Regions from separate parts of the Homo sapiens genome. Here region 1 is linked to region 2. The links come from fine-mapping of genetic effects on gene expression. A gene starts in region 2. The other region holds a variant in brackets. All regions are shown on one strand. Distances are from middle to middle. Region 1 overlaps ENTPD4-DT (ENTPD4 divergent transcript). Region 2 holds the start of LOXL2 (lysyl oxidase like 2).

The links. PIP is the estimated chance that this variant, and not a neighbour inherited with it, causes the effect.
Region 1: its variant is fine-mapped to the expression of LOXL2 in whole blood (TOPMed, PIP above 0.99).

Annotation. Positions count from the first base shown.
Region 1 is chr8:23,458,802-23,475,273 of GRCh38, reverse strand. ENTPD4-DT (ENTPD4 divergent transcript) reads right to left here. Exons shown (of 5, transcript NR_186533.1): 2 at 15,920-16,060. Among named protein-coding and RNA genes, the nearest start is that of ENTPD4-DT, 9.3 kb to the right of the region's middle. RefSeq lists an enhancer at 5,547-6,046. The variant A/G (reference allele first, on the strand shown) is at 10,996.
Region 2 is chr8:23,398,095-23,414,566 of GRCh38, reverse strand. LOXL2 (lysyl oxidase like 2) reads left to right here and starts at 10,447. Exons shown (of 14, transcript NM_002318.3): 1 at 10,447-10,613. RefSeq lists an enhancer at 3,952-4,071 and a silencer at 3,937-4,231.

The DNA.
Region 1 (16,472 bases), 61 kb before region 2:
GCTTCAGTGCTGATCAGCTCAGGGACCCAAGCCATGTCCTCCAGGGGCTCTCCTTTGGTCTCCCTGCCTTGCTGTCCTCTGTGTTGGCCACACTCCCAGGCAGCCTCTCCCCATGCAGCAGCAGATGGTGGCCCAACAACCCTGGGGAGTGTGGACCTCCCTTATGGCACCAGGGAAATTTCAGCCTGAGCCATCCATGGTGGTTAGTGAGGCTGCATCTCTAGTGGCCACTCTGGGTGGGCAGAACCCACCAGAATCACATGTTGGCAAGCGGGGAAGTGGCCCTTCAAAGGAAAACTGCTTTGCTGACATCAAGAGGAGGGCAGGCCAGGCATGGTGGCTCACACCTGTAATCCCAACACTTTGGGAGGCCAAGGCAGAGGATCGCTTGAGCCCAGGAGTTGAAGTCCAGCCTGGGCAACATAGGGAGACGCCGTCTCTACCAAAAAAATTAAATATTAGCCAGGCGTGGTGGCACGTGCCTATGGCAGGAGGCTCTCTTGAGCCCAGGAGATCGAGGCTGCAGTGACTGTGCCACTACACTCCAACCTGGGTGACAGAGCGAGACCCTGTTTCAAAAAAGCAGGAGTGCAGGGTACTGGATAGACATAATATCAGATACCCTCATCAGACAGACACAGAGGTCGGGAACGAGAGTGAAGGTGATACTGAGTCCCTCCAGAGGCTGGATTTGGACTTCTGGTGGTCACTGAGGAAGACAGGCATATGGGGCAAGATGAGGTTGGCACTGGCTTCTTAGGGAAACCCTCAAGTCACTCTTGAGTACCTGGAATACCTGGGTGGGGCCGTGGTCACAGCGCCATCTAGTGCCATGTCATGACGTAGCCGGGAAGCCAAGGGGGAAGATGCCCCCTTGAGCTCCTTTTGCTCCAAACAGCGTGGTCTACGAGGGGCAAGGGGCCGCTTGACAAATATTTGTAGGCAGCGGGGACATTTGGAGAGAAAAAGCTAAGGAAGATACAATGGCAGTTCTTGGCTATTTGAAGAACTGACCTCTGGGAGAGGGATGAAACTCACAGAACTAGCACCCTTAAGGGGAGCTAGAGGAAATTTGGGGTGAATGATGACAACTAGAACTGTCTAATGAAGAAACGGGCTTTCTTCCGAGGGAATGAATTCCCATCCCTGAAAGTGTTTAAGCTGTGATTTGGATGCCTTTAGTCAAAGATACGATATAAAGTCTCCTATATTGAGTGCAAGATCAAGCCACAACACGTTTAAGGTAGCTTCCAGATTATAATTATATGAGTTATTCACACTCTGAATGAGGAAGAAATCATTCACCGAATGGTGCAGTAGCTAACTTTGTCTTCAGTGTCCTTTCGCCTCCTTTTTGGGGCTCCTTTTTCCTGTCTCCAGGCACCTCTATTTCATACTTGGAAGCTCGAAGCTCTCATGAGGTCTACCGGCTCCCAGGCTTGCTTTCTAGACATAATAATATCCCCGTTGCAAAATTCATCCTCTTCTTCCCATAAAAACTTCTAGGATCTGACATACAGCCTATGATCAACAAATAATCCAGATGTCAACTCGCCTCTTGAATGTCAGAATTCAAGAAACGGAGCTCTGTTTGAGGAGCTATAAACTTAGTTATAAACAGCCAATATCATACATTTTTATTTAATTTATTTTTTTGAGACAGAGTCTCCCTCTGTCGCCCAGGCTGGAGTGCAATGGTACAATCTCGGCTCACCGCAACCTCCACTTCCAGGTTCAAGTGATTCTCCAGCCTCAGCCTCCTTAGTAGCTGAGATTACAGGTGCCCACCACCATACCCAGCTAATTTTTGTATTTTTAGTAGAGATGGGATTTCACCATGTTCGCCAGGCTGGTCTTGAACTCCTGACCTCAAATGATCTGCCCACCTCGGCCTCCCAAAGTGCTAGGGTTACAGGCATAAGCCACCATGCACGACCGATCATACATTTTTAATTACTTTTCATTTAGTAGCTTCTGTGTTCACTGTTAAATGTGTTTTCATTAATCTTGTCTCCTCCAGTTATTTTGTTAGACCCTGTGGGCAACAGTTTGTAATATAATCTTCTGAATCCTCCACAAAATTTGGTGTTTCAGTAATAGAATAGTTGATGAAGATCAATGTTTGCAAATTCCATTAGTGAGTTTGTTCCTCTGCATGGAGGATGTCAGGCGCTGTGATAGACAAGAACATGTAAAGGTGAATAAATAGAGCTCCAATTCACCTAGAATAGAAGTAAGATATAAAGCGCCTACTAAGTGCCAGAAACTGTGCCACACACATGACACAGCATTACTGCATTTTACTCAGGCAGTTTCATGAGGCAGGGATGGATTTCTAGTTTCATTTCATAAACTAGAAATTGAGGCCCGGAGAGGACTTTGCCTAGAAAGTAAGAGCCAAAACTCAAGCCCAATTTAGTATGCCTCTCCTTTTCCTATAAACAAATAAACAAAATAAATTACAAAACAAATTAGTTTTTACTGGAGAAGGTGCACGTTTCCTTTTGGGAGTCCCCAGAAACAAAAGGACCACATTTTCCCTAGGATTGGACCCAGGGAATGGAGAAGCAAAAACTTTCTAGTTTAGTCTTGATGGATACTCCAATGGAATCAGGCAAAACCAGGGGTGGGAGTGGCCGTGTCTGATGGAGGCGACTCTTGTCACCTCCCTGTCCCTGGCCACTGAGGCACCTCTGGACCGCTTCCTGCCGCCTTGCTGCCCCGCGGTGGAGAGCGCGAGCTCGGACGCCATCTAGTGGTGAGTCCGAGGCTTCACTGGAGGGCTCAAAGAGGATCTGGTGCCAACATGCGTTCATGATTCGCGAAGAGCTGGGATTCAGAGTCAAATGCAGTGGGTCCTGAATCCCAGGTCAGAGCCCATCATAGCATCCCAAAAGAAAGCCACTTGCTGCCTGTGTTGCGCTCAGTTCCATATTCCGGAGCTCAGTGGCTTCTCTCCACCCACACCCTTAACTTCCAGGCTTCTGGGAGAGATGCTCTCCTTATCCTTGTTTGTATTACACTTCCATTCATGTTAGTCACAAGTGAAAAACAAAAGCCTCAGCTAACCAAGTCTTGCAACTCCAAGACACACAGACACAGACACACAGACACACAGACACACACACACACACACACACACACACACACACACACTACAACTGTGGCAGGATCATTCATCACGCAGCCTCTCTAGGGGAACTTTTGCTAAATACAAGATCTAGGCGAGAAAAATCCAATACTCTGGGGAGGCGGATGGATGAGGCCCACCAAGGAGGAAGATGTCCTTGCAAAAGGAAGCTCTGCACACAGAGCCTAGGAACCAGAGACATTCTAAGCAGGTCCACCTTGAGGGCCTCGCTCCTACTCTCATCCCCTCTCTCTGCCTGACGCCATGCCAGGTCATGCCTCTGCCCTAGCCCCACCTTCCCACAGTAGCAGGCAGTTGTGCCGAGCTTGAAGAAGGGAGGCAGGCCTGGCCCTGGGGTCACAGGTTATGGACAGCCAGGCTGCACGGTATCCCAGAGAGCTTTCTCTGAATGCCTCCAGGGGATGAAGAGTTCTCTGAGCTCATTTTAATACTTGACTCACCCAATTTAGTCACTTGTTATATAAGTGGATAAATAATGTTATATGTTCCATGGGTGCATATATATACATTTTTAATTTTTTATTTCTATAGGTTTTGGGGGAATAGGTGCTATTTGGTAAAATGAGTAAGTTCTTTAGTGGTGATTTGTGAAATTTTGACGCACCCATCTCCCAAGCAGTCTAACTCAACCCAATTTATAGTCTTTTATCCCTTACTCCCTTCCTATCCTTTCCCCCTGAGTCCCCGAAGTCTATTATGTCTTTCTTAGGATGCATATATTTTTAATTAAAGAAATATATTCCCATTTTAGGTCTTGTAGTAGCCAAAATAATCCCTCTCTCCACCTCTCTCACTCCCACGCACGTCCCTGACCTAATCCTTGGATCCTATAATACATTACCTTACATAACAAAGGGGATTTTACAGATTGATTAAGGTTAAGGACCTTGAAATGGGAGATTAGCTTGGATTACCCAGGTGAGCCCAATGTAATCACGTGAGTCCTTTAACATCGGAGAGACTTTCCAGGCTTTGGGAAGAGAGAGTTGACCTTTGCTGACTGTGAAGATGGAGGAAGAGGCCCAAACAGCAACCAAGCAACGATCTCTGGAATTTGGAAGTGGCAAGGGTGGTCTCTGGAAGTTGGAAGTGGCAAGGAAGCAGATTCCCGCTACAGCCTCCAGAAGGGTATGCAGCCTTGTGGCTGGTGAGACCCTTTTAGGCCCATGTCAACCTAACTGTAGGGTAATAAACTTGCATTGTTTTAAGCCACTAAGTTTGTGACAGTTTGTTAGAGAAGCAATCAAAGCTATTAATAGAGGTCTCACTTAGGCTTTACGATCACACAGTTTCATTTAACATCAAAGCACGAACTGCCTGGAGCTATGCTGCCTCTCAGAGACTTTGCATTATGGTAGGCCACATTTTTGGATTTTGCTTCAGGACCTAAGAGGAAAGGCATCATTTCTGTTAATAATCTACTTTATTACTCAGAAACCAGAAGATCTACTCTGTTCCACCTAACGGAGATGGCCGCTAGTGCTCCAATGAATGTCTTCAGACCCTTCAAAGAGATCTCAGCTAGGGGCCTTTGGAAATGGCCTCTGTGCCTTTTATGGTTAACTAGAACATATCCCGTGAATATGTTCTGTAGAGAGGGCAAACCCTTGAGAAACACACACTGAATCATAAAATTGTCCACACCTCCCAAATGCAGTAATTCCATTCTTGGGAATTCATTCTAAGGCACTTAATTTCAAAGGTTCTAAAAAATGTGCATGCAAATTTTTATGATAATATTATCTACAATAGTAAAAACAGCAAAGGAAACAGTCAAAATTCAAACTAAATGAAACCTTTAATAAATTATGATTCTCTGCTGGTACGGAAACATTAAAAATTATAATTGTTTTTACTCTAGAAGCATAGGGAAATGTTCCTATTACACTCAATGAAAGCAGTGTATTAAAAAATAGCATTCAGGCCAGGCACCGTGGCTCATGCCTGTAATCTGAGCACTTTGGGAGGCCAAGGTGGGCAGATCACTTGAGGCTAGGAGTTCGAGACCAGTCTGGCCAACATGGTGAAACCCCATCTCTATTAAAAATACAAAAATTAGCCAGGCAAGGTGGCGAGTGCCTGTAATCCCAGCTACTCAGGAGGCCAAGGCATGAGAATCACTTGAACCCTGGCCAGCAGAGGTTGCAGTGAGGCAAGATCATGCCACTGCACTCCAGCCTGGGCAACAGAGCGAGACTCTGTCTCAAAAAAAAAAAATATTTATTCAATAATCATTTGTTGGCCACATGCTATGTATCAAGTATTGCACCAAGCACCAAGTAATGAAAGGGCACCAAAATAAATACATTCACTGCCCTTGTAGATTGAAGTATGCCACAATGGCAAAAATGTAAAGTGATCTATTCAGGTGGCCAGTGACATACCAAAAAAAAAAAAAAAACAAGCAAGTTGTTTTGTTAGAGTATAGTTAATATTCTAATTAACTTTCTTACATTACCTTTTCAGTTATGATAATTATATTAAAGCATAGGGCAGAAAGAAAACACAGACCTCTTGATCCAAGTCACGATGCAGTGGACTCCTCACTGAGGAAGCCGGCCCTGAAAGCATTGTTTAGAAACACAACAAACAACAGCCTCTTCCCCAGCAGGGGAGCAGGAAGCCAGCTGTACACACAGGTCACTCCCAGGGGGTGGTCAGCTTTGGGAGGCCACCTTTGAGCCTGAACTGACACCCTCTGTGTATGTGTATCTGGGAAACTTTCATAGGACTGACTAAGCATGGCCCTGAAAGACAGTAACTCCTGTCTCTGCCTGTCCCCCAGCTGCTGAGAGGATAACTATGAAAGCAGATGTGTTGGCCGGGCATGGTGGCTCACGCCTGTAATCCCAGCACTTTGGGAGGCCGAGGCGGGTGGATTATGAGGTCAGGAGATCGAGACCATCCTGGCTGACATGGTGAAACCCTGTCTCTACTAAAAATACAAAAAGTTAGCCAGGTGTGGTGGCAGGCGCCTGCAGTTCCAGCTACTCGGGAAGCTGAGGCAGGAGAATGGCATGAACCCGGGAGGCGGAGCTTGCAGTGAGCCAAGATCGCGCCACTGCACTCCAGCCTGGGCGACAGAGCAAGACTCTGTCTCAAAAAAAAAAAAAAAAAAAAAAAAGAAAGCAGACGTGCTGCCTTGCTCATCATCGTTTTTATGCTGCTGTCGGTGTGGGGCAAGCCACATACACTGCCCTCCATCTCCCTTAGTGGACAAGGAGACTCTGAGCTTGTTCGTTTCTTTTTTGTTTGTTTGTTTTGTTTTTGAGACAGAGTCTCCCTCTGTCGTCCAAGCTGCAGTGCAATGGCATGATCTTGGCTCACTGCAACCTCCGCCTCCCGGGTTCAAGCAATTCTTCCATCTCAGCTGCTCGAGCTGGGATTACAGGCAGCCACCATCACGCCTGGCTAATTTTTGTATTTTTTAGTAGAGATGGGGTTTCACCATGTTGACCAGGCTGGTCTTAAACTCCTGACCTCAGGTGATCCACCAGCCTCAGCCTCCCAAAGTGCTAGGATTACAGGGTGAGCTTGTTCATTTCTAAAGTGCTTTCTGAAACTGCAGCTACCGGAGCTGTCCTGGGCTCTAGGCCAAGTAAGAGGAAACCCAGGTAGGCACAGCCCCTGACCACTGGATTCGAATCTGAAGACACCTTTAGGATGGTACAGACATGAAGAACATTTGGATCACCAAACAACTATGGAGCAAATGACATGAGTGAAAGAGAGACTCGTTAGCAATGTACATTAATTGTCCAACAAGTAGCATAGTTTGATTAGGAAGGGCATTTATAGAGATGTGTTATTCTCCCTTGACTTACCATCCACTATCATATTAGGAGGCGCGGTTTAATAATGATTCACAGTGGACTTTGTATCAATTCTTATTACATATCAAGCTTTGTACTTAGCACTTCATTTGGATTATTTCATTTAATTCTCACAGCAATCCAAACAGGTGGATAATGCTATCTCCATTTACCATTGAGAAAATGGGAGCTTAAAAAAGTAATAACATGGCCAGGCACAGTGGCTCATGCCTGTAATCCCAGCACTTTGGGAGGCCAAGGCGGGTGGATCATTTGAGGTCAGGAGTTTGAGACTAGCCTGGCCAACGTGGTGAAACCCCATCTCTACTAAAAATACAAAAATTAGCGGCGTGTAGTGGTACACACCTGTAATCCCAGCTACTTGGGAGGCTGACGCAGGAGAATTGCTTGAATGTGGGAGATGGAGGTTGCAGTGAGCCAAGATTGTGCCACTGCACTCCAGCTGGGTGACAGAGTGAGACTCTGTCTCAAAAAAAAAAAAAAAAAAAAAAGTAATAACTTGCCCAATGTCTCATAAGTGACTAATGGTTCAGTTCTTGGAAGTCCAGGTTGAGGACTTCATGCATTGTCATTACAATTGGAACTTTGTGTCTGGTTATTTCTACTTGTTCTTCCAAATCCAGCACATGAAACAGCCCACCCTTCCCTCCCACTGCCCCAACTCCAACCAGTCTCCAGCCTTCTGTGCTCTGTGTCTCTGTGATCTGTGATTGCTGCCCATGTGATGTCCCTGCTGCCAGCCCCTTGGTCTTAGACCTCCCAGTCTCTAGGATCATGAGATAATACATTTTTTCTTTCCTTCTTTTTTTTTTTTTTTTTTTTTTTTTGGGACAGAGTCTTGCTCTGTCACCCAGGCTGGAGTGCAGTGGTGCGATCTGGCTCACTGCAACCTCCGCCTCTTGGATTCCAGCGATTCTCCCACCTCGGCCTCCTGAGTAGCTGGGACTACAGGTGTGTGTCGCCATGCCCAGCTAATTTTTATATTTTTAGTAGAGAAAGGGTTTCGCCATGTTGGCCAGGCTGGTCTCGAACCTCTGACCTCAAGTGATCCGCCTGCCTCAGCCTCCCAAAGTGCTGAGATTATAGGTATGAGCCACCTCGCCCGGCCATAAATTTGTTTCTTTTAAAATCTAAATTTCATTATAAATTACCCAGTTTGTGGTATTCTGTTAGAGCAACACAAAATGGACTAAGACATTCCCCATTTCTGGGTATACATCCAAAGGATTAAAAGCAGAGTCCCAAAGACACATTTGTATACCCATATTCATAGTGGCATTATTCACAATACTCAAAGGTGGAGGCTACCCAGTGTCCATCAACAGATGAATAGGTAAATAAAATGCAGTATATCCATACAGTGGAATATTATTTGGTCTTAAAGAGGAAAGACATTCCAACGCATGCTGCAACACAGATGAACCTTGAGAACTTTATGCTAATTGAAATAAGCCAGTCACAAAAAGACCAATGCTGTAGAGTTCCACATATATAAGGTATCCAGAGTAGTCAAATTTATAGGCAGAAAGCAGACTGAGGGTTGCCGGGGGATGAAGAGAGAGGAATGGGGAGTCGTTTAGCAGGTACAGAGTTTCAGTTTTGCAAGATGAAAAACTTCTGGAGATTGGTGGCACAATAATATGTATACACATAACATTACTGAAGTGTACACTTAAAAATGATCAAGATGGGCAGGGTGCGGTGGCTCACGCCTGTAATCCCAGCACTTTGGGAGGTTGGAGCATGAGGATCATTTGAGCCCAGGAGTTTGAGGTTACAGTGAGCTACTATTGTACCACTGTACTCCAGCCTGGGTGACAGAGACTCTGTCTCTAAATAAATAAATAAATAAATAAATAAATTTAAGATGGTAAATTTTATGTTATGTGTATTTTACCACAATTTTTTTTAACAAAAGAGGAATCCTTCCTCCTCTTCACATTTATCGTTCTCTTTGTGTCTTCAGTCACATCTCATGCCACCTCTTCCAGGAGGTTTATTCATTCCTTCTGCGTTCTCCACTCTGGGATTGCCACAAACATTTGGAGGGTCAGGGCTAAGAGGACACACCCATGTTTTAAGATGTTTAAAATGATAAATTCAGATAAACTAGTAAATCAAATGTTATAGCCCCTCTAATTTTTACTTTTTTGCATTTATTTTTAAATCTATATATTAAATCTATATATCTTTGTAACAACAACATGGAAAAGTCTGTAATACTGTGGTTTCTGTAAGACTGAAAGTCAGGCAAGTATCAAGGCTCAAGCTCTGTCCTGAAGCCCCACACTCCCCACTCATCCTCCCAGCTGCTCAGGCCAGCCCACAGCCTTGGGCAACAGCAGAGGCTTCTACAGTCAAGGCCATAGGGCTACATTTTCCTGGGGTAGCTACAGAGCTGCTTCTAGGGCGTGGGACCTGTGCAGTCAGTCACAGATGGCTGGCACTTAGAAAAGCCCTGCACTGATCGGATCATGAGGTCAGGAGTTCGAGACCAGCCTGACCAACATAGTGAAACCCCATCTCTACTAAAAATACAAAAATTAGCCAGGCATGGTGGCACGTGCCTGTAGTCCCAGCTGCTCGGGAGGCTGAGGCAGAAGAATTGCTTGAACCCGGGAGGCAGAGGTTGCAGTGAGCCGAGATCACACCACTGCACTCCAGCCTGAGCAACAAGAGTGAAACTCCATCTCAAAAAAAAAAAAAAAGAAAAGAAAAGAAAAGAAGGCACAATTGGGAAACAAGCAAATAGTCCATTAAACATGTTAGAACACAGCGAAAATATATATAGGGAAGTGTCTGGACATCAGGCTTAAAAGTTGAAAGCAACTTAACCATGGCCTTGGGGTGTCATGCCAAGGAGACTAGTGTGAAGCCATCCTGTCCATGACATCTGGTCACCTCATCGATTTGCAGTTGATTTGCTCAGGAATTTCAACCTTAACTTAAAGGTGATGGTGCAGTAGGGAAGGATGGTGAGAGGAAGAATGGTATGTTATCTGGTGTGAGAAAGGAACAGAGAGAGGTTTAAGGTGTCCAATAAACTACCCACTGCTTCCTGCTTAAGTCTGAATAATTTTAGAAATGAAACAAAAACTATATGAAAACCTGTGAAAGGAAAATATCTTGGGGCCCCAAAATCACTAAGCCAAAGGGAAAATTCAAGCTGGAAACTGCTCAGGGCAAACCTGCCTCCCATTCTACTCAAAGTCATCCCTCTGCTCACTGACATAGAGGCATATTCTGATTGCCTCCTTTAGAAAGGCTTATCAGAAACTCAAAAGAATGCAACCCCTTTTCTCTCACCTACCAGTGATCTGGAAGACCCCTCCTTGCTTTGAGTTGTCCCCACCTTTCTGGATGGAACCAATGTATGTCTTACATATATTGATTGATGTCTCATGTCTCCCTAAAATGTATAAAATGAAGCGGTGCCCCAGCCACCTTGGGCACATGGCGTCAGGATTTCCTGAGGCTGTGCCATGGGCGCACATCCTCAACCTTGGCAAAATAAACTTTCTAAATTAACTGAGACTTGTCTCTGATTTTCTGGGTTTACAAACCAAAGTATCATCTTTATCACAGATGAAGCTGATATTGAAAAATGGAGCTTTTATCTAATCAGAACAACATTGACTCGTGCCAGTCATCATGATCAGGAGACAAAATTACCTTGCTTAACCAGGCCAGGGTCATAATTTCTGACCCAAATGGACCAAATATGACCTGAGTATATTCCTTCAGAAATCTGAGGTACTGTTACCAAAACTAGAGTGATGGGGCCCGAGCAGCAAAAGCAACTATGTCTGCTGCCTACGTGTGTGTGTGTTTTGTGTGTGTGTGTGTGTGTGCATGTGTTTGTGTGTTCAATTACCCATCTCCCATGTGACTCCTTTATGGTACAGTTTGATCACTCTGCTTTGATGAGAAAAGTTTGGAGTAAACCCAGGATTTAGGGCCAGACGTTGTGGCTCACGCCTGTAATCCAAGCACTTTGGGAGGCCAAGGCGG[A/G]CAGATCACCTGAGGTCGGGAGTTCGAAACCAGCCTGACCAACATAGAGAAACCCCGTCTCTACTAAAAATACATAACAATTAGCCCAGCGTGGTGGCGCATGCCTGTAATCCCAGCTACTCGGGAGGCTGAGGCAGGAGAATCGCTTGAACCCAGAAGGCAGAGGTTATGGTGAGCCAAGATCGCGCCATTGCACTCCAGCCTGGACAACAAGAGTGAAACTTGGTCTCAAAAAATAAATAAATAAATAATTTTTAAAAAAATTTGGAGGAAACCCTGGATTTTGATGTTGCTTTGAACAAGTCACTTTCTCTTTCTCTCCACAACAAAACACCATGAAATAAAAATCCCTTTGCCTTAGGAATGCTGGGCTCATAAATGAGACCATGCCTGTAAAGTGACATGATTTCCTGAAGACAAAGGCTGTGTAAATATATAGGATTATTAGCCAAGCCACTCAAAAATAGTCTGTGCATGAATGTCTTGGAAAGCAAACAGGTCCAAGGAAGAGTAAGAGAACTCCCCATTTCCAAGCGCTGCAGGATTCCTTTGTTTCCTGACATCTAGCATGGTTACCTTCCCCAAACACCCACACACAGCCAGGAGGGACAGGTGAGCCAATTTAGCTTCCTTGGAATGATGGATTAAAACATTTGGAGAGCAGAATTTCAAGCAATTGCCATGTTAGAGGGTTTTCTAGAAAGATAATTAAAGAGAAATCATAATTGGGTTTTAGATATTGATGGTTGTTCATCTGCCCTACTCCATTCATCAACATTCCCATATACACTGTTACAAAGAAATCTCAAGTTCAACAAGAGAAGGAAAGAGGTCTTCTATCTTATGTTTGATTTTTTTTTTTTTAAGTTTTCTTTGGAGACAGGATCTTGCTCTGTCACCCAGGATGGAGTGCAGTGGTGCGATCACAGCTCACTGCAGCCTCAAACTCCTGGGCTCGAGCAATCCTCCCACTTTCACCTCCCAAAGTGCTGGGATTATAGGCATGAGCCCCTGTGCCTGGTCCTTATGTTTTGTTTCTTAAGAAGAAAGAGGCCGGGCATGGTGGCTCACACCTGTAATCCCAGCACTTTGTGAGGCCAAGGCGGGCGGATCACGAGGTCAGGAGATCGAGACCATCCTGGCTAACATGGTGAAACCCCGTCTCTACTAAAAATACAAAAAAATTAGCCGGGCCTGGTGGTGGGTTCCTGCAGTCTCAGCTACTCGGGAGGCTGAGGCAGGAGAATGGCGTGAACCCAGGAGGTGAGCTTGCAGTAAGCTGAGAATGTGCCATTGCACTCCAGCCTGGGTGAGAGAGCTAGACTCCATCTCAAAAAAAAAAAAAAAAAAGAAGAAGAAGAAGAAAGAGAAGGACGGAAAAAAAGAGGGAGAAGAAGAGACTGTCTTAGTTCATTTGTGCCACTATAACAAAGTACCACAGACTGGATAATTTATAAAGGACAGAAATATATTTTCTCACAGTTCTGGAGGCTGGGAAGTCCAAAGCACATTTTCTATCTGGTAAAAACCTGTTCCTCAAAGATTGAGCTATATAGGTATCCTCATCTGACAGAAGGTATGGAAAGACAGAAAGGGGTTGAGTGCTAAGTACTTACAGGGCAGAAGAGCAGAAGAGAGTAAACACGTTTCCTCAAGCCCTTTTATAAGGTCTCTAATCCTACCCATGAGGGCTCCACCCTCATGACTTAATTAATGCTGAGAGGCAGAACCCCTTAATGCTAATCACATTGGTCATTACGTTTCAACACATGAAAACTGGGCGGCACATTCAGACCACAGCAGGGAGGGAAAGGAGAAGAGAGAAAGGGAAAATCTTACTTCTAGTCTTCTCTTTTGCCTCTTAGAAATCATAGATTTTAGACCTGGAAAGAACGTTAAAGGTCAGCTTAGCCATCTCCACAAACCCCTTTCCTTTTACAAATTATATATGGATGGTGAGGACCAGTAAGGCAAACTACAATTTCTAAGCTTACACAGTCTATTGAGGATAAGGATTCAGGTTTCCTGCCTCCCGGCTTGGTACTTTTTACATTAAGTCATCCTGTCTCCCATTTAGTTTTATAACCTTGAGCAAGTCACCCAACCAGTCAACAAATATTTTTAAAGACCTAACAACAAGTAATGGAATATCCAACCAAAAGAAATTTAAACAAATAAAGAGCTTATTTTTCTCTCCTAATAAGAAGTCAGGGGGTAGACACAGTCACTGGTACTAGTTCAGCGGTTTAATGATGCCATCATGGACCCAAACAGTTCTATCTTTCAGTTCCATCGTATTTATTGTTGGCTCTTATCAGGATGACTGTTGTCCCATGGTTGCAAAATGGTCATGTATCTCCAGGTATCACATATTTGTTCAATATTTCATTTAACACTTTTAAAGTCCCATGCACAAAATGAGTTACTTTGATTTTACAACCATGATAGCTGTATTCTTTGTAGATGCTCCATCAAGCTGAGGAAAATCATACCCTTTATAGTTGATAAAGGCTTTTTTTCAAAATTATGAATGGGTGTTGAATTTTGCCAAATTTTTTTTTGCATTGACTGAGATCATACGAATCATATGAATTTTCTTCTTTATTCTGTTTATGTAGTGAATGACATTGATTGATTTTCAAATGTTGAGCCAATTTTGCATTCCTCAAAAAAGAATCCCACCTGGTAATGCTATCTTGCTCTTTCAGATGTCGCTGGATTTGATTTGCCAATTTTGTTTTTGTTTTTGTTTTTTTGAGATGGAGTCTCACTCTGTCACCCAGGCTGGGTGCAGTGGCGCAATCTCAGCTCACTGCAACCTCCACCTCCCAGGTTCAAGCAATTCTCCTGTCTTACCCTCCTGAGTAGCTGGGATTAAAGGTGCCCACCACCTTGCCTGGCTAATTTTTGTATTTTTAGTAGAGATGGGGTTTCACCATGTTGGCCAGGCTGGTCTCAAACTCCTGACCTCAGGTGAGCCACCTGCCTCGGCCTCCCAAAGTGCTGGGATTACAGACATGAGTCATTACACCTGACCTTGATTGGCCAATATTTTGTTAAAATTTTTGCACCTATGTAAGAAATATAGGTGTGTGATTTTCTTTCCTTTTTATTTCTTGGTATCAGGATTATTCTGAATTATAAATTAAAAAGTGTTCTCTCTTCCTTTGTTCTTTCAAAAGAGTTTATATAAAATCAATATTACCTTTCTTAAATGATTGATAAACATTTACTAGTGAAGCCATCTTGCTCTGGAATTTTCTTTTTAGGACCTTAAAGATATGGGGTGATTCAAATGTTCTATTTCTTCCTGTGCCAGTTTTGGGAAGTTGTATTTTTCAAAGACTTTTTCCATTTAATGTAAATTATCGAAATGATCAGCATAAAGTTATTCATAATGTTTTCTTATTATATTTTCAATTTCTGTATATCTGTAGGGATCTTCCTCTTTTATGCTTGATATTTGTTATTCGTGTTTTTTTGTCCTGCTCAATCTCACTAGGAGTTTAGCAATTTTGTTAATATTTTCAAAGAACCAACTTGTAAGTTGGTTAATGTCTCATATTATTTTTTATTATTTTTTTCCTCCTATTCACTTCGAGTTTAATTCACTTTCTTATTCTAATGTCATAAGGTGGAAACTTAGATAATTGATTTCAAACCTTTTTTCTTTACTAAAATAAACTTTTAAAGCTATAAATTTCTCTTGAAGGACTGTTCTGACTGCATTCCACATATTTTGATGCAGTTTCATTATCATTCTGTATGCCGTGTTTTCTAACGTTCTTACAACCATGCCTGGCATAAAGTACTTAGTAAGTGTTCCCTCCTGTTAGCTCCAGTTTTTGTTTTTTTTTTTTTGAGATGGAGTCTTGCTCTGTCGCCCAGGCTGGAGTGCAGTGGTGCGATCACAGCTCACTGCAAGCTCCGCCTCCCGGGTTCACGCCATTCTCCTGCCTCAGCCTCCTGAGTAGCTGGGACTACAGGCGCCTGCCACCACGCCCAGCTAATTTTTTGTATTTTTTTTTAGTAGAGACAGGGTTTCACCGTGTTAGCCAGGATGGTCTCGATCTCCTGACCTCGTGATCCACCCGCCTCGGCCTCCCAAAGTGCTGATATTACAGGCTTGAGCCATCGCGCCCAGCCTAGCTCCAGTTTTTGTTTCTCTTGTTAACAAGTGAGAATGGGCCCCTTCAGAGCCTCTTTGCTGTTTCCACTGACTGAAATACTATTCCTTCATATAGGCCCAGAATTCTAATAAATTCCCATTCATTGTGCAGGTGTGACCTCAGACAGCGTTACCTCAAAGAAGCTCTCCCTGATGAACCAGACCAGGATGGTCCTCTCATGTACTAAGTTGAATAGTGACCACCCCCAAAAAATTCATGTCCACCCAGAACCCATGAATGTGACCTTATTTGGAAATAGGATCTTTGCAAATATAATCAAGTTAATATGAGATCATAAGATCACACTGGATGAGGGTGAGCCTTGAATCTAATATGGCTGGTGTCTTTATGAGAAGAAAGAAACTTGGAGACAGAGACACAGACACACAGAGATAATACCATGTGACAACAGGGGCAGAGACCAAAGTGATGCATCTACAAGCTGAGGAAGGCCAAGGATGGCCAGTAGCCACCAGAAGCTAGGAAGAGGCAAAGAAGGATCCTCCTCTAGATCTTTAGAGAGAGCACAGCCCTGCTGACACCTTCATTTCAGGCTTCTACCATCTAGAACTGGAAGACAATAAATTATCTTGCTTTAAGCCACCCAGTTTAGGGCAATTTGTCACTGCAGCTCTAGAATGTAATATGCCAAGTTACACGTTTCCATACTTTCCTATATTTTTCTTTCCTAGCTCTTATCAGACAATTATTACATATAAATTATCAGGAAATATGGATGGTGTGATAATACTTACTAGTCTGGCTTTTCTTCTCTCTCTCTCTGAGATGGAGTCTCACTCTGTTGCTCAGGCTGGAGTCCATTGGCGTGATCTCGGCTCACTGCAACCTCCACCTCCCGGGTTCAAGCAATTCTCCTGTCTCAGCCTCCTGAGTAGCTGGGATTACAGGCACAAAAAAGCCACTATGTCCAGCTAGTGTTTGTATTTTTAATAGAGATGGGGTTTCACCATGTTGGTCAGGCTGGTCTTGAACTCCTAATTTCAGGCAATCCACCTGCCTTGGACTCCCAAAGTGCTGGGATTACAGGCATGAGCCACCATGCCCGGCCTAGTCTGGCATTTTAGTAGAGCCCTCCTTAAGGAAGACTAACATAACCCCAACCAGTGTCTCCAATGGCAAAGATTTTGAAAGGCAGATAATTTCGAAGGAGACTGTCCTTAAAATCACAGTATGTCAGTGGCCAGCTTTAGCTTCTCAATGCTAGCCTTGGGTCACAGGGTTTTCTAGTGTGAAAATTATCCAAACGAGTAATTTCTTATAGCAACAGATTGTCAAAAAAAAGACACT
Region 2 (16,472 bases):
CCGGCCAGTTTGGCAGTTTCTTACAAAACCAGACGTATTTTTACAATAAGATCCAGCAACTGGTGTTTGTACTCCTTGATATTTGCCCACAGGAGTTGAAAGCTTAAGTCCACACAAAAACTTATACATGAATGTTTACAATAGCTTCATTCATAATAGCTCAAACTCAGAAACAACCAAGATGTCTTTTAATAGATGAATGGGTAAATAAACTGTGGTACATCCCAACAGTGGAATATTATTCAGCAATTTGAAAAATGAGCTCTCAGCCGGGCACGGTGGCTTATGCCTGTAATCCGAGGTGAATGGATCATTTGAGGTCAGGAGTTCAAGACCAGTCTGGCCAACATGGTGAAACCCCGTTTCTACTAAAAATACAAAAATTCGCTGGGCATGGTGGTGAGCGCCTGTTATCCCAGCTACTCGGGAGGCTGAGGCAGGAGAATCACTTGAACCCAGGAGGCAGAGGTTGCAGTGAGCCAAGATCGTGCCACTGCTCTTGAGACTCTGTCTAAAAAAAAAAAAAAGAAAGAAAAAAGAAAAGAAAAAGAAAAATGAGCTATCAGGCCATGAGCAGGCGTGGAATCTTAAATGTCTATCGCTAAGTGAGACCGGTTGCAGTGGCTCACGCCTGTAATCGAAGCACTTCAGAAGGCTGAGGTGGGAGCATCACTGGGCAATATAGTGAGACCCTGTCTCTAAACATAAATAAATAATTATGTACATAATTAAGTGAAAGAGACCCCTCTTGGAGAGTCTACATACTGTATGACTCCAACTATGGGACACTCTGGAGTCGGCAAAACTATGGAGACGGTGAAAAGATCCGTGGTTGCCAGGGATTATGGGGAAGGGAGGGGTAAAAAGGTGGAACACAGGGAATTTTTAGGGCAATGAAACCATTCTGCATGATGCTGCAATGATGGATACATTTGTGAAAACCCATTGAATGTACAACACAAAGAATAAGCCCTAATGTAAACTGCGGACTTCAGTTAATAATAATGTGTCCATACTGGCTCATCAATTGTGATAAATGTGCCACCGAAATGCAAGATGAAAATAGTAGAGGAAACTCACTGTGTATGAGGGGCATATGGGAGCTCTCTACATTTTCTGTTTATTTTTTTCTGTAAATCTAAAACTGCTCTTAAAATTTTTAAAGAATCATAACTAGAAAAAAGCTGTCAATTTGAAGCTAACAAGTCACGTCCATGTAAATTAGTTTCAAACTGAGTGGCACTTGCTGTCTGCCAGGCATTGGGCTCTGAGCACTTCACACGCATACATTCATTTCAGCCTTACAAGAATCCTATGAGGTCCCTCCCTATTTTACAGGTGAGAAAACTGAGGCCCAGTGAAGTTAAATAACTTGCTCAGTTATGGTTAGTAAGTGGTGGAGCTGCGATTCAAACCCAGGCAGTGTTGCTCCAGCTACTATACTCTAAACCACATATTACCCCGCATTACTCTTCCCCAAACTTTTCATTTTATTTTATTTCTTTTTTTTTTTTTTTTTTTTTTTGAGACAGAGTCTGGCTCTGTCACCCAGGCTGGAGTGCAGTGACGCGATCTTGGCTCACTGCAAGCTCCGCCTCCCGGGTTCACGCAATTCTCCTGCCTCAGCCTCTGGAGTAGCTGGGTCTACAGGTGCCCGCCAACATGCCTGGCTAATGTTTTGTATTTTTAGTAGAAATGGGGTTTCACCGTGTTAGCCAGGATGGTCTTGATCTCCTGACCTCGTGATCCGCCCATCTCGGCCTCCCAAAGTGCTGGGATTACAGGCGTGAGCCACCGCACCCAGCCTATTTCATTTATTTATTTAGAGATAGGATCTTGCTACGTTGCCCAGGCTGGAGTGCAATGGCATCATCATAGTTCACTGCAGTCTTCACCTCCTGGGATCAAGCTATCCTCCCATCTCAGCCTCCCAAAGTGCTGGGATTACATACAGGCATGAGCCATCAAGCCTGGACCAAACTTTTCATTTTGAAAGAGGATAGAAAAGGGGCACCCAAGGGACTAATTTTTAAAATCAACTTTATTATGGAGTAATTTACCTAAAATAAAGTCACCCATTTTAAGTGTTCAGTTTCATGAGTTTGGGACAAACACATATGCTAATATAAACACCACCACAATCAAGGAATAGGCCATTTCCATCACTACAGAAAGCTTCCTCATGCTCCTTCCCAGGCCACCTCACCCACCTCCAGCCTCAGGCCACCAGTGATCTGCTTTCAGTCCCTGCTGTTTAGTTTAGACTTTTCTAGAGTTTTCTAGAGTTATGACTGGATCATACAGTATGTCTCCTTTTTGTGGCTGGCTTTTTTGTGCATGTCAGAGTTGGGGGCAGGCATCCTGATATGTTTGAGATTCAACCATACTGTTTGCTATGGTTTGAATGTGTCCGCCAGAGTTCATGTGTTGGAAACTTAACCCCCAGTGCATCAGAGCTGGGTGTTGGGGTCTGATAAGAGGTGACTAGGTCATGACAGCTCTGTCCTCATGAATGAATTAATGTTATTTCAAGAGTGGGCTTTTTGTAAAGGGGACTCTGGCCCCCTCTTGCTCTCTTGCTTGCTCTCCCTTCCAAGTGCCATGCCCTTGGACTTCCCAGCCTCCAGAACCATGAGTCAAATATATTTCTGTTCATTTTAAATTACCAAGTCTGTGGTATTCTGTTATAGCAACAGAAAATGGACTAAAACAGTGTTGCATGTATTGGTAGTTCACTCAAAGGAACTAATTTCTAATTGCAAGATTTCAGATATGTTAATCCCCAGGAGAGGAAAGCACACTTTTTTTATTATTATTATGACTAGGACCTTCCCAGGCTGCTTGAGTTGTACTGATCCTGGTCCCACTTCAAAGCAGGGGAGGCACTGAGTGACATCACCCTGAACTGGACCCCAAATGGGCTCCAAGCACAGGAAGTTGTTGGAGGGATTGAGTCACTCCCAACTCAAGCGGGTGATGGAAAGGGCAAGTTAGTCATGTAACCTGGTCTCATGGAATGCTTCTCCCTCCCAGACTGAATTTCCTTCTTTGCTGAATACACAGGACTGCCCTGCATAGCCTTCTTCATTAGAGAAAGCTATGAGAAGCTTTGAGCTCCTCCAAGTAAACTGTTTCATACTCTCAAACAGGCTGTTAATGATGATGATTAATAATAAATTAAGCAAAAGAAGGCCAGGTGCAGTGGCTCATGCTTGTAATCCCAGCACTTTGGGAGGCCGAGGCAGGTCAATCACTTGAGGTCAGGAGTTAGAGACCAGCCTGACCAACATGGTGAAACCCCATGTCTACTAAAAATACACACACACACACACACACACACACACACACACACACACACACACACAAATTAGCTGAGCGTGGTGACGCACGCCTGTAATCCCAGCTACTCAGGAAGCTGAGGCAGGAGAATGGCTTGAAGCCAGGAGGTGGAGGTTTCAGTGAGCCGAGATTGCATCACTGCACTCCAGCCTGGGCAACAAGAGTGAAACTCTGTCTTAAAAAATATATGTAATAACAATAATAATAATAAAGTAAGCAAAAGAAAAGGAAAGGGATGAAGTTAGCACACTGTGGTTGACAGAATAATTTTACATCCTAGAAAATAGATTAAATGAAATTACACTTTTCAATGTAAAAACGTTGTGTTTCCTGGGAAAAAGGCAGATGCGTCCTAACCACTCCTGATTGCATACATATGCAATTTACAATTGTACTTTCTGAGCAGATTTGGAACTCTCCTGGGGCTTAGCTGACTTGGTCTGGGTCTGGTCTCAGCACCCCTGCTAAAGCCTCCTAGGGAAGGTGCTCGGGTTGACAGCTCTCTGGGCCTCTGGTTCCATGTCTGTAAACAAGATGCTTGGAGCACAATTTCTCAAGTTACCTGGCGGCTCTTTAGATCTTAACCCTTTAAATCTCTAGAATTTTAGGGTTTCAACCCCATTGGTATAGCTTGGCCCTGAAGAGAGCAAGCGCACATTGCCGTGTGAGAGACAGACCACTAAGGGGCGCTGCTTCCTCGGAGGAGGCGGGAGTTCTCCTCCTCCTCCGCATTCTCTCCTCTGATGAAACCACACTCATCAAAAGTGGTTGTGACAGAATGCTCAGATTTGGAATGATGAGAAACACGGAAGCCACATCATAGGACCTGATAGATATCTGGCCAACACAGGAACACTGGAATATGTGATCTATGTGACCATCCCCTTCCCAAGGCCAGATCGAACACCCACCCCTTGACATATACCAACGTTAATTGCTTAATGACACGAGGAAATACATTCTGAAAAATTCGTCATTAGGCGATTTTGTCATTGTGCAAACATCACAGAATGTACTTATGCAACCCTAGGTGATATAGCTTACTACACTCCTAGGGTATATGGGATAGACTGTTGCTCCTGCACTACAGATTTGTATAGCATATGACTGTTCTGAATACTGCAGGCATTTGTAACACAGTGGTAAGTATTTGGGTATCTAAACATATCTAAACATAGAAAAGATACAATTTAAAAAAATGATAAGGCCAGGCACGGTGGCTCACGCCTGTAATCCCAGCATTTTGGGAGGCCGAGGTGGGCGGATCACGAAGTCAGGAGATCGAGACCATCCTGGCTAACACGGTGAAACCTCGTCTCTACTAAAAATACTAAAAATTAGCCGGACGTGGTGGCGGGCGCCTGTAGTCCCAGCTACTCCGGAGGCTGAGACAGGAGAATGGGGTGAACCTGGGAGATGGAGCTTGCAGTGAGCGAAGATCGCGTCACTGCAGCCTGGGCAACAGAGCCAGACTCCGTCTCAAAAACAAAAAACAAAGAACAAACAAAAAAGATAGACCGGTTTAGGGAAGGCATTTCCCATGAAGGGAGCTTGCAGGACTGGAAGTTGCTTTGGCTGAGTCAGGGAGTGCGTGGTGAGTGAATGTACACTGTACACTGCTGTGGGCTTTATAAACACTGCACACTTAGGCTACACTCAATTTATACATAATACTTATTTTTTCAATAATAAATTAGCCTGAGCTTACTGTAACTCTTTTACTTTATAAACTTTTTAGTTTTTAAAACATTTTTTGACTCTTGTAATAACACTTAGCTTCAAACACAAACACTTTGTACAGCTGTACCAAATTTTTAAATTTCTTTAGTATTCTGTAAGCTTTTTTTCTATTTTAAAAATTATTTACTTTTGTCTGTGTTGTAAACTTTTTTGTTAAAGACGAAGACACAAACACGCACATTAGCCTAGGCCCGCACAGGGTCAGGATCATCAATGTCAGTCCTCCACCTCCACATCTTGGTCCAGGAAGGTCTTCAGGGGCGTTAACAGACATGGAGCTGTCATCTCCTAGGATAACAATGCCTTCTTCTGGATACTTCCTGAAGCACCTGACTGAGGATGTTTTACAGTTAGGCTTGTTTTTTTTTGTTTTTTTTTTTTTTGAGATGGAGTCTCACTCTGTCACCCAGGCTGGAGTGCAGTGGCACAATCTCGTCTCACTACAACCTCCACCTCCCGGGTTCAAGTGATTCTCCCACCTCAGCCTCCCAAGTAACTGGGATTACAGGCGCCCGCCACCATGCCTGGGCTAATTTTTATATTTTTTAGTAGAGACAGGGTTTCACCGTATTGGCCAGGCTGGTCTCGAACTCCTGACCACAGGTCATCCGCTTGCCTTGGCCTCCCAAAGTGATGGGATAACAGGCATGAGCCACTGCACCCGGACAGCTTTTTTTTTTTTTTAATAAGTAAAAGTACACCCTAAAATAACAATTAAAAGTATAGTATAGTAAATATATAAGCCAGTACCATAGTGATTTATTATCATTATCAATTATTATGTACTATACGTAGTGACATGTGCTAGACTGTCATATGACTGGCAGCTTGTATGTTGTTTACACCAGCATCACTACAAACACATGAATAATTTATTGCATGACAATGTCACAACAGCTATGGCGTCAATAGGAGAGAGAAATTTTTCAGCTCTATTATAACATTATGAGACCACCAAGTGATACGGGACCACCAACATATACCTGGACCATCATTGACTGAAATGGCATTATGCGGCACGTGACAATATTTCCAAATCACCTTCCCAGATGGCTGGATCAATGTTTGTTTGGTTGGTTGATTGGTTCCCCATTTAATTCAACAAATAGACCATATGGAGCCTCTTCTGCAGTTCTATAAATTTAACTACTCGTTTCTGCATTTTTATTCATCTAAGTAATCATTACTAATACCTACTAAAATTATTCCTACTTTCCCACTTCATCAGACGGGCCTTCCCTGGCCACCCCTACTGGACTAGCACCTGAGCCTCCTTCACCTTCTGTGCTCACCAGCTTTAGTCTTCTCTGTAGCACTCTGTCACCAACCGACTCCCACATTTCCTCATTTCTGTGTCTTTGTGTCTTGTCAGTCTCCTACTCTGGCATATAAGCACCATGAAGGCACAGACCGGCTACAGCATTGGCTGGGCCTCCCTGGAGCCTCAGGCTATGCCTACTGGGACATGCTATGCTTCTTTCAATCTAAGTCGGTCCAGACTGGTAGGAGAGTGATTTGGCAAGAGAGTGCAAAAGCCAAGGGAAAAAAAAGAAAGAATCGCCTCTAGCCTTTGACTCAGTAATCACATTCTGGGAATGGATCCTAATGCAGTAATTCACATGACCCCTGGGGATGGGGTGGACAGGAGGTGTTGCCTTCCCTCTCCCTGTGTGGGGTCTGAAGCCCTGAGGGACAAGGAGTCACTGTGCCCTCCTCAAAGATGCCCTCCTCACAACGCAACATTTATTGTCCAAGTACCATACGAGGGACTGTTCTGAGTCTGAGCCCATTCAGTCCTTTTACTCCTTTGGAGCTTTTTTTTTTTTTTTAACAGATACCGCTTTGTCACCCGGGCTGGAGTGCAGTGGCATGATCTCAGTTCAAATGCAGCCTTGACTTCCTGGGCTCAAGTGATCCTCCTGCCTCAGCGCCCCAAGTAGCTAGGACTACAAGCCCATACCACCACGCCTGGCTAATTTTTATATTTTTTGTAGAGACAGGGTTTTGCCATGTTGCCCAGGCTGGTCTCAAACTCCTGGACTCAAGCAACCCACCCACCTTGGCCTCCCACAGTGCTGAGATTACAAGCTTAAGCCACTCCACTCAACCTCTTAGGAGCATTTTGAGGCGCTTCTTACAGATGAAGCATGTGAAGGAAAAGGGAGTTCACATCAGTTAATGGTGGAGCCAAGATTTGAACCCAGGCCCCCTGACTGCACAAGCATGCCCTGAACCTACTGTACGACTCTGCCTCTGCAGCAGTGCAGGACCTGAGTGGTGGAGGTGGCAGGGTGGGAGGTGTATCCAGACTTACAGACATAAGGCATCCCGCCATCATTTTGTTTCATCTGGGACAAGGGTCTACTGTTGTCCTGAAGTAGTCTCCTAGGTCTTGATTTCAATTCAACAAAAGGGCATCAATAAAACACTCAGTGCAAACTTCAGATACTCTACTCATTTCCTCTTGGAAGTGAGGACATGGTAAGGCAGAGATGGACTTACTGAGGCCTCCAGTGTGGGCCACTAATACTTGCTGGACGAGTCAAGCTCCTTTTGGTTCTCCCAGCTCGGCCATTCCCTGCCTCTGTGACGCTGGGAAAATCACTTCTCTGAGCCAGGGCTTTCTCATCTGTAACAATTAGCAGGAACCACACTGTACCCAATCAATAAATATTACTTTCACAGGGGTAATTGTCATGGCGTAATTTACACTAGCAAAAAGCTGTAAACAACTGAATATCCAATAATGGAGAAATGACTCCATTGCACAATAATTTCAGACCAGAACTGTCTAAAACCATTAAAAATTACATTGAAAAATTAACACAAAATGATATAGTAAAAAAAATCAGAGGCCAGGTGAAGTGGCTCACGTCTGTAATCCCAGCACTTTGGGAGGCAGAGGTGGGTGGATCACTTGAAACCAGGAGTTCAAGGACAGCCCGGCCAGCATGGTGAAACCCTGTCTCTACTAAAAATACAAAAATTAGCCACACGTGATGGCACATGCCTGTAATCCCAGCTACTCGGGAGGCTGAGACAGACTTGGGAAGCTGAACCTGGGAGGGGGAGGTTGCAGTGAGCCGAGACTGCGCCACTGAACTCCAGCTTGGGAGTCAGAGCTAGAGTCTGTCTCAAAAAAAAAAAAAAAAAAAAATCAGGATACAAAAACTGTAACTACAATTTGGTTGAACAAATATTCTGAAGGAAAGACTCCAAACAGTAGGTGTTTATGGGTGATAAGACACCAGAGTGACAATTTCTTCCTTACATTTTACATATTTTCTGAATATTTCACAAGAAGTTTGCTTTTCTTTATAACAGACAAAAGATTATTTACAAAGTTGGTCTCCTTTCATTTTCTACCTTATTAGTGAATGCTTTAGCAAGAGAGGGTAGGACTAGAAGTGGAAGGATGGGAGATGGGGAAAGGGGAGAGCTCAGTTTCACCAGCATTTATTGAGCATCTGGTACGTCCAGGCACTGTGTAGGGTGTGACAGCTGAGTGAAAGCTCAATAACCAGGCATTACTGTGCAGAGAAGCCAAGGGAATGTCACGTTCAAAGGTCCTGGGGTGTGAAATAGAAGGCTTATAGGAGCACAGAAAGTAAGGCCCAGGGGGAGAGGTGAGATGTGGTTGGCAGTTGGGCAGGCTGGAAATGCCCCAGAGGCCCTGTCAGCTTAATCAAGGGATTCAGATTACATTTTTCTTTTTCTGAGACGGAGTCTCGCTCTGTCCCCGAGGCTGGAGTGCAGTGGCGGGATCTCGGCTCACTGCAAGCTCCGCCTCCCGGGTTCACCCCATTCTCCTGCCTCAGCTTCCCGAGTAGCTGGGACTACAGGCGCCCGCCACCACGCCCGGCTAATTTTTTGTATTTTTAGTAGAGACGGGGTTTCACCATGTTAGCCAGGATGGTCTCGATCTCCTGACCTTGTGATCCGCCTGCCTCGGCCTCCCAAAGTGCTGGGATTACAGGCATGAGCCACCGCACCCAGCCAGGATTCAGATTACATTTTGAGGACCTTGGAGCCACGGAGGATTTTTTTAAATTTTTAATTGAAATTTTATTGGGTGTATTACGTTCTATACAATTTTATCACCTGTGTGGTTTTCTGTATCTCAAGACACTGAATAGTTCCACCACCACAAAGATCCCTCCTCCTGCCTTTGATAACTACACCCCCTTCCTCTGACCCTTGCCCTCTACTGCCCACCAGAGTCAGGGACTGATCAGTGGGGAGGGTAAGGAGGAGGCAACGGAGAAGACCCCATATCTGCCTGGGAGAGCTCACAGGAGTCAAGGTGGACCGTGAGTTGCAGTGCCAAGTTTGGGGCTTGCCAGGTTAGCTACGGCCATGGGAATGTCCAGGTGAAAGTCTTTCGGGGCCAATGGATTTAAATATCCATGGCTTAGGAGAGAAGCCTGGGCTGGAGGTGAGATTTGGGAGGGGTTTGTCTCCTCAGGGAGTGGAGTAAGAGAGGACTGAGGAAGGAGCCGCCTTTCAGGTGACAGTCTACTTCTGCACAGGGGTCCCTTGTTTTGCAGCTCGCTGCCTCCTTGGGACTGGCAAAGCCCTGCTCTTGCTTAAGGAGCCCTCTCTGTGCAGAGGGCTCTCCCAGCATGCCCATCCCCCACCCGGAGCCTCAGAGCCAGGCACAGGAGGTCCTTCTGCACAATGGCCACGCATTAGCTGTGTCCTGTTCAGTCCCCAAGCACAGGGCTTGTTAATCCCAGCCCTACCATTCCAGGAAGGACCCCAGAGGTCACGGAATCCAAAGCGTTGAATTTACAAAGAAGAAAACTAGTCCTCGGAGAAGAGGCTTGGCCAAGGCCATAGACGTGATCTGCTGGCCGAAAGGGGGCTGTTTATTTACTGGTTCAGGATCGGTTTTCCCCCTACAGGAAAAGGGAGGTGAAACCCAGGCGAGATGGGTGCAAGTTTCTGAACACTTTCATTCGGCAGCTTTAATTGAGCGTGTATTATGTGCCAAGGAGGGCCAGGGTTTTCGGGATAGGAGGTGGACAAGGCACGGGCCCTAAGGCTGGTGGATAAGGACATCGAAGGGTTAAATTCTGGGACGGCTGCAGGGAGGAAAGGGTAGAGGAATCTCCCGAGGAAAGGCCCCCTTCCCGGCATCTCAGGCTCCGGAAACCCGGGCGCGAGGAGCCTGGGAAGGGCTGCCCCGCAGGCCTTGGCCTCCCCCGCGGAGCTCCCTCTGGCCCTGGGAGTGGCCGCTCTCGAATTACAACAAAAGAGGCCGGAGGCCGGGCCTGCTGCGGCGGCCGCCTTCGGGGAAGGGGGTGGGTCCGGGGAGGGGTTTGCCATCCTCCTCTAGTTAAAAGTAAGGGGGAAAAGAGTAAACGCGCGACTCCAGCGCGCGGCTACCTACGCTTGGTGCTTGCTTTCTCCAGCCATCGGAGACCAGAGCCGCCCCCTCTGCTCGAGAAAGGGGCTCAGCGGCGGCGGAAGCGGAGGGGGACCACCGTGGAGAGCGCGGTCCCAGCCCGGCCACTGCGGATCCCTGAAACCAAGTAAGAGCGCTTCCCGCGCCACCCCCTCCCCGAAGCGGTTCGCGAGAAAGCGGGAGCGTCCCTATGGGGTCTCCAGGCTTCGTCCTGCGCGGGGCTGCCTCTCGACAGTGCCTGGGGGTTCCCAAAGACTTCTTGCGGGGAGCGATGCGAGGACGTGCAGGCTAACGGGTCCTCCTGCCGCCCCGGGCGGCCCCGCCCAACCCCACCTCGTACGGGCCGGGCGCGGCGCGGCTGCTGGCGCGCCCGGGGAGCGAGGCGCTGGGTCCCTGGATCGTCCCGAGCGCCCGTAATCAGGCGGGACAGAGCCCGTCAAGTCTCGGTGTGTGCTGGGCGTCTTGGAGAGTGCAGCGTGGCTCCAGGGACAGCGTCTCCGGAATTCTGGCTTTGAGGAGTGGGGCACGCGGGGGACGGGTCGGGAGACAGTGACTGCCCTCGGGGCTGTGGTTTTGGGGATGTAGAGCGTGCTGGGCTGGGACGGAGTGGGGGCGGGGACCCCGGGGGCTGCGCCCGGGAGCTGTAGCGTCCACTGCTTGAACCCGGTTCAACCCCCAGCCTGCTCGAAAGGCTGTTGGGAGCGCGGGAGCGCCGTGAGTCCTGCGGGAGCAGAGGCGCTCTCGGCACGCCAGGTATGCACTCCCAAGTCGCCCTGCCTCTCCGGGGACCAGGGACCCTCTCCCGCCTTCATCACCTAGAAGCCCTGGAGTTGGAAAGAACGGGCACGAGCGAACCCACGGCTACAGCTGATCCCAATCTTGAGCCGTTGGTCCGGTGGTCTGAAGTGCCTACAACTTTTACGCAGGCGCTTTGCCCACCGCGCCCCTTCTCACCAGCCCAAATTTGGAAGCCCTCTGGGTGTGGCTGCCTGCTCGAGGTGTCCCAGGAATCAGCGCTGGAATAGAGATGATTGGGAGAACAAGCGAGGTTCCCTCCTCTCCGTGCCCGAGCTAAGACCATCAAAAAACAGCCGGAGTGCGGGGCGGAGCGGGGCGAGGGTGTGAGGAAGAGAACACCGCAGAACACGGCGAGGGAGGGGGCTGAACTACTCAATATGGTTAGGAAACCCCAAGTCCTGATGAGGGGAGAGATGTGCATGACAGAAACATGCTCCAAATTAGTTTCGTCCCTAAGATCTTGAAACTGCAGAGATCTCAAAAACAATACTTTTTTTTTTTTTCTCCCAGAGGAAGAAAAACGCTGAGGCTCACGGTCACTGAGTTAGTCAATGTGGGGACTGAAACCCATACCTCTTACTCCAGGCCCCTCCCCTACACCACTGCTAGCCTGTCCGTCCTGGAACCCCAAAACAACATTTGTCATCTTTGGTGGAATGAATTAGTTATTGATGGTGTATCATGTACTTAATGGTCAGGGTTGGGGTTTAGGGTGGAAGAGGAAGAGTTCATTTCCCTGGTCAGTTCCCAGATAAGTGACTGACTCACTGGATCCTAACTTGACTAAATTTTTAATCTTTCTCCTCACCTTTGTCCCGTTCCTCTTCCTGGTCCCTAGTATCTGCCCTGGAATGGCCACCAGAGCCATGACAAGATGCGTGCTCCCCATGGGCCCCAGTGGCTACCAAGGCTCTCCCCAAGGAAATTGAGTCTCACTAATCTGTGTGTGCACGCGCGCACGTTTGTGTATGCATGTGTGCACGTGTATGTGTGGGCACATGTATGTGTGCATGTGTGTGTCTCCACACGAGTGTGTTTGTGTATGTGTGTGCACCGGTGTGTGTTTATATGCGCACACAGGTGTGTGTGCGCGGGCACGTGTGTGTGCACGCAATGTGTGTGCATATGTATTCCTGTGTGCATGTGTGCACACCTGTATGTGTATATGTGTATTTGTGTTTGTGTGCATGTTTGCATGTGTATGTGTGTGTGCGCGTTTGTGCACTTGTGTGTATGTGTGTGCACGCATGTGTGCACGTGTGTATATGTATATGTGTGTTTGTGCATGCATGTGCATTTGCTTCCCTGTAACTTTGTGTTAGAAAGTGACTTAGTCTAAGGTCACTTAGGCATTGAGTGGCAAAGTTGAGTATGAAACTCAGGTCTGAAAACAAAACGTACTTAACACCACACATTGGCTGACATTTTAAGTATCACAGATAGGAGATTCTGCAAAGATGCTTCCTTTTATTTTCTTTCCAACTGGCCTCTCCTGGCCTCTTCCCAAGTCCTTGTCCTTTGACCTCTAGATGGCCAGTGTGGAAGGGCTTTGTGAAGGAAACAGATTTTCTGTGCTCTAGATAGACATGACCATCAGCGAAGGTGTTGAGTCCCAGAAAACACTACATTGTTTATTTTTTATTCTCAAAAAATTTCAAGTATGCAAAAAAAGTAGAGAGAAGGGTATAATGATGCCTCATAAGCTTCTCACTGAATTTCAACAGTTATTTTGCCACATGTACGTCATCTGTCCCTTTGTTTCTGTCATTGAAGTAGTTTAAAGCAAATCCTATACATCATGTCATTTCATTGCTACATATTTCAGTGTGATTTCTAAAGATTTTACATAACTATGATGCCATATTTAGACCTAAGAAAACTAAAAAAAAAATATTTGGTATCATCTAATGCCAAATAGCAGTCTATATTTAAGCATTTCCCAATTTTCCTCAAAATGTCTTTTTTTATAGTTGATCTGAGTTCTGTTGATTTGTGTAACTTGTTACATTCCTATTGTTATGTTCTTCCTTTCAAACTACTTTTCTGTCCACTATGTCATTTGATTCTTACAAGGTCCCACTAAAGAGTTAGGTGAGTATTTTCAAATTCATTTCTCAGCTGAGGAAATGGATAAACAGATAAGCTGTCCAGAGGGCACAGCTGGTGACCCAGGGAGCCAGGGTCTAACCCAGCCTCCTCATGGCTGGGCTTCGGTGGTTCTGGTTCTCCATGTTACTCGTGGACTCTCAGCTGCTCTCTGAAGAGTTCTTCTTGGCTCAGGCTTCATCCTGGGCTTATCACTTCCTATACACCTGCTGTCAGAAATCCCTGTGTAAATATTAGTAATTGGACATTTGGTGCTTGAGATAAATGAACTGCAAAATCAGGAAGCCAGGGTTTGTTTCCTAGCTCATTGCAAAACTGTAAGGGCTCAGAGCTGCCCTCTCTGAACTAGAGAGCAGTGTACTTCCTCATTATTTGACTCCAAGGTGTAAAAATAGGATGAGTGAAATGACTGTTGCTGGGATTCCTGGAAGAAACAAAGGCCCCAGAAAGAAATCTAGTAGAGGACAATCTCCCCTCTCTGAGCATCACCTGAGTACTCTGACAGCTGGTACCTTCATGCTGAAGCCCTCAAATCCTATGACAGAGAAGTAGGGGTATATAGGCTTCCCATTGAAGCCCTTAGTTTATGCATGACTTTATTCTGCATTTGACCAATGAAGATATGCAACACCTGATATGGCTTGGCTGTGTCCCCACCCAAATCTCATTGTGAATTGTAGCTGTCATAATTCCCATGTGTTGTAGGAAAGACCCGATGAAAGGTAATTGAATCATGGGGGTAGATCTTTCCCCTGAGAAGTAAATCTCGTGAGATATGGTTTTATAAATGGGAGTCCCCTGTACATGCTCTCTTGCCTGCCACCATGTAAGATGTTCCTTTGCTCTTCCTTTGTCTTCTGCCATGATTGTGAGGCCTCCCCAGCCATGTGGCATTGTGAGTCCATTAAACCTCCTCCCTTTACAAAGTACCCAGTCTCGGGTATGTCTTTATTAGCAGCATGAGAACAGACTAATACAACACCAGAGCCTTCTGCTTTTAGCATTTTCATTACTTAAGTTTATTTGCTTTTGAAATGGAGCGAAGAAGAAATTTCTCCACCTTGTTAATGAGACTCATAAGTTGGAATTCTCCTTTCTTGGCAGATCATGTGGGAAAAAGGAATCTCTTGGCACAGGACTCCTAGATGTTCTGCTGTTACGCTTGTTGCTTTGAAACAGGGAATGAACAGACCTTCCATAAAATAGCCAGTTAGAGGCAGAGAAACTGGTCAACCCGATTCCATCCAACGGGAGGAACTCCGAAGTGGCAAGACATTAACCTTAAATCACCCTGCCTTCTGACGGCCATAGATTCTTTTTCCTTAGCTAATAGGCTGTCTCCATGGAGGAAGAATTTCTAGGTGATTCCACACCAGCAGCTGCAGTTGCACAAGCATGACTGCTTCCTTCATTTTAAAGTTTGGGGAGCCTTAGGAGGTGTTTTAGTCCATTTTCTGTTGCTTATAACAGAATACCTGAAACTCGGTAGTTTATTAAACAAAAGGAATTTAGTTCTTACAGTTATGGAGACTGAGAAGTCCAAAGTCCAGGAGCTGTACCTGGTGAGGGCCTTCTTGCTGGTGGGGACTTGGCAGTATCCCAAGGTGATGCAGGACCATCGTGAGGGGGCTGAGCATGATAACATGCTAGCTCAAGTCTCTTTTCCTCTTGTAAAGCCACCAATTCCCTTCCCATGATAACCGATTCATCTATTAATTGGTGAATGGATTCATCAGTTTATGAGGGCAGAGCACTCATGATTCAACCACTTCTTAAAGGCCCCACCTCTCAAAACTGCCACATTGGGGATTAAATTTCAACATGAATTTTTTGGAGGGACACCTATTCAAACCACAGCAGGAGATATGATTTCCCATTCCCAGGGGCTGCCTGGCTTTAAAAGAGCAGCTTGTTACTGTCATCGTCCATTTCCCCCTGGAGAAAGGCTTTTGTGGTCGGTCTGCATGGCAGTCACACCCTGGGTGGTCCATGAGGCCTCAGATGAAGTGGCCCGAGGCCACTCTGCTCTAGGCCCACAGACAAGGCGGGAATAGCAGTTGCAGGCTAGAAAAGGAAGGGCCAACCAGACATTCACAGAGATGCAACCAGAGCAACACACAGCTGAGTCTCTTAAGTCTTCAGTCCTGTGTAAGTTGAAGCAAGACATCAGAAATCTCTCACCTGAGTAATTCCACACATGCACCCACTGCTGTCCAATGCAGTGCTTGCTCAGCAGGGAGCACCTCTTGGCCAAGCGTATTGGCAGCCCTTCTACCGTGACCAGCGTCAGGGACGTCTCTAGGCGCCTTTTCAGAATAGCTGGCAACATAGGGAGACCCAGTCTCTACCAAAAAAAAAAAATTAGCCAGGCATGGTATAGTCCCAGCTACTCAGGAGGCTGAGGCAGGAAGATTGCTTGAGCCCAGGAGGTCAAGGCTATAGTGCATTCCAGCCTGGGTGACAGAGTGAGACCCTGTCTCAAAAACAAAGAAAGAATAGCCACTTGGTTGATGATGATAAAGGATGCTGGGGACTGTGTAGTTCAGACTTCTGTCCAGAGTTTTAACAAATCTTTTGCACTTTCTGTGGCAGAAATACTATTACCAGGCAAGTAGTGTGTGTGGCAGATGAGAACAAGAACTAACTCAGCAGATGCTGAGGTTGTGGTTAGGAACACAGTTAGTAGGTTCTTCTTGTCCAGGGCTTTTGATCCCTTCACTTGGGATACCTTAAGTATTATATTTAATTATAGTCTTCTAAGCAAAGAGTGATGTTTTCTTTTTAGTTTTTTCATTCCTACGATCCACGTCAGACAAGCAGACACAGCTGGCCCTCTGGATGTCCTGTGGCAACAGACATATCCTCCTTGATGTGTTGCCAACAAAGTGCTGAGGGTATCTTCTGCAAAAATGATGCCACTTGCCTATAAAACATACACTTACGACAAGATAACTTATGGTGATGACTTGTGAACAACTTAATTTGCAGTTTCTTTATAATATCTTTCTGGAACTTGGATCCATGAACTTCTTTTGCCCCCAGGCTTGTCCTGATATACCACTGGGGTACCAAGGTAAACACA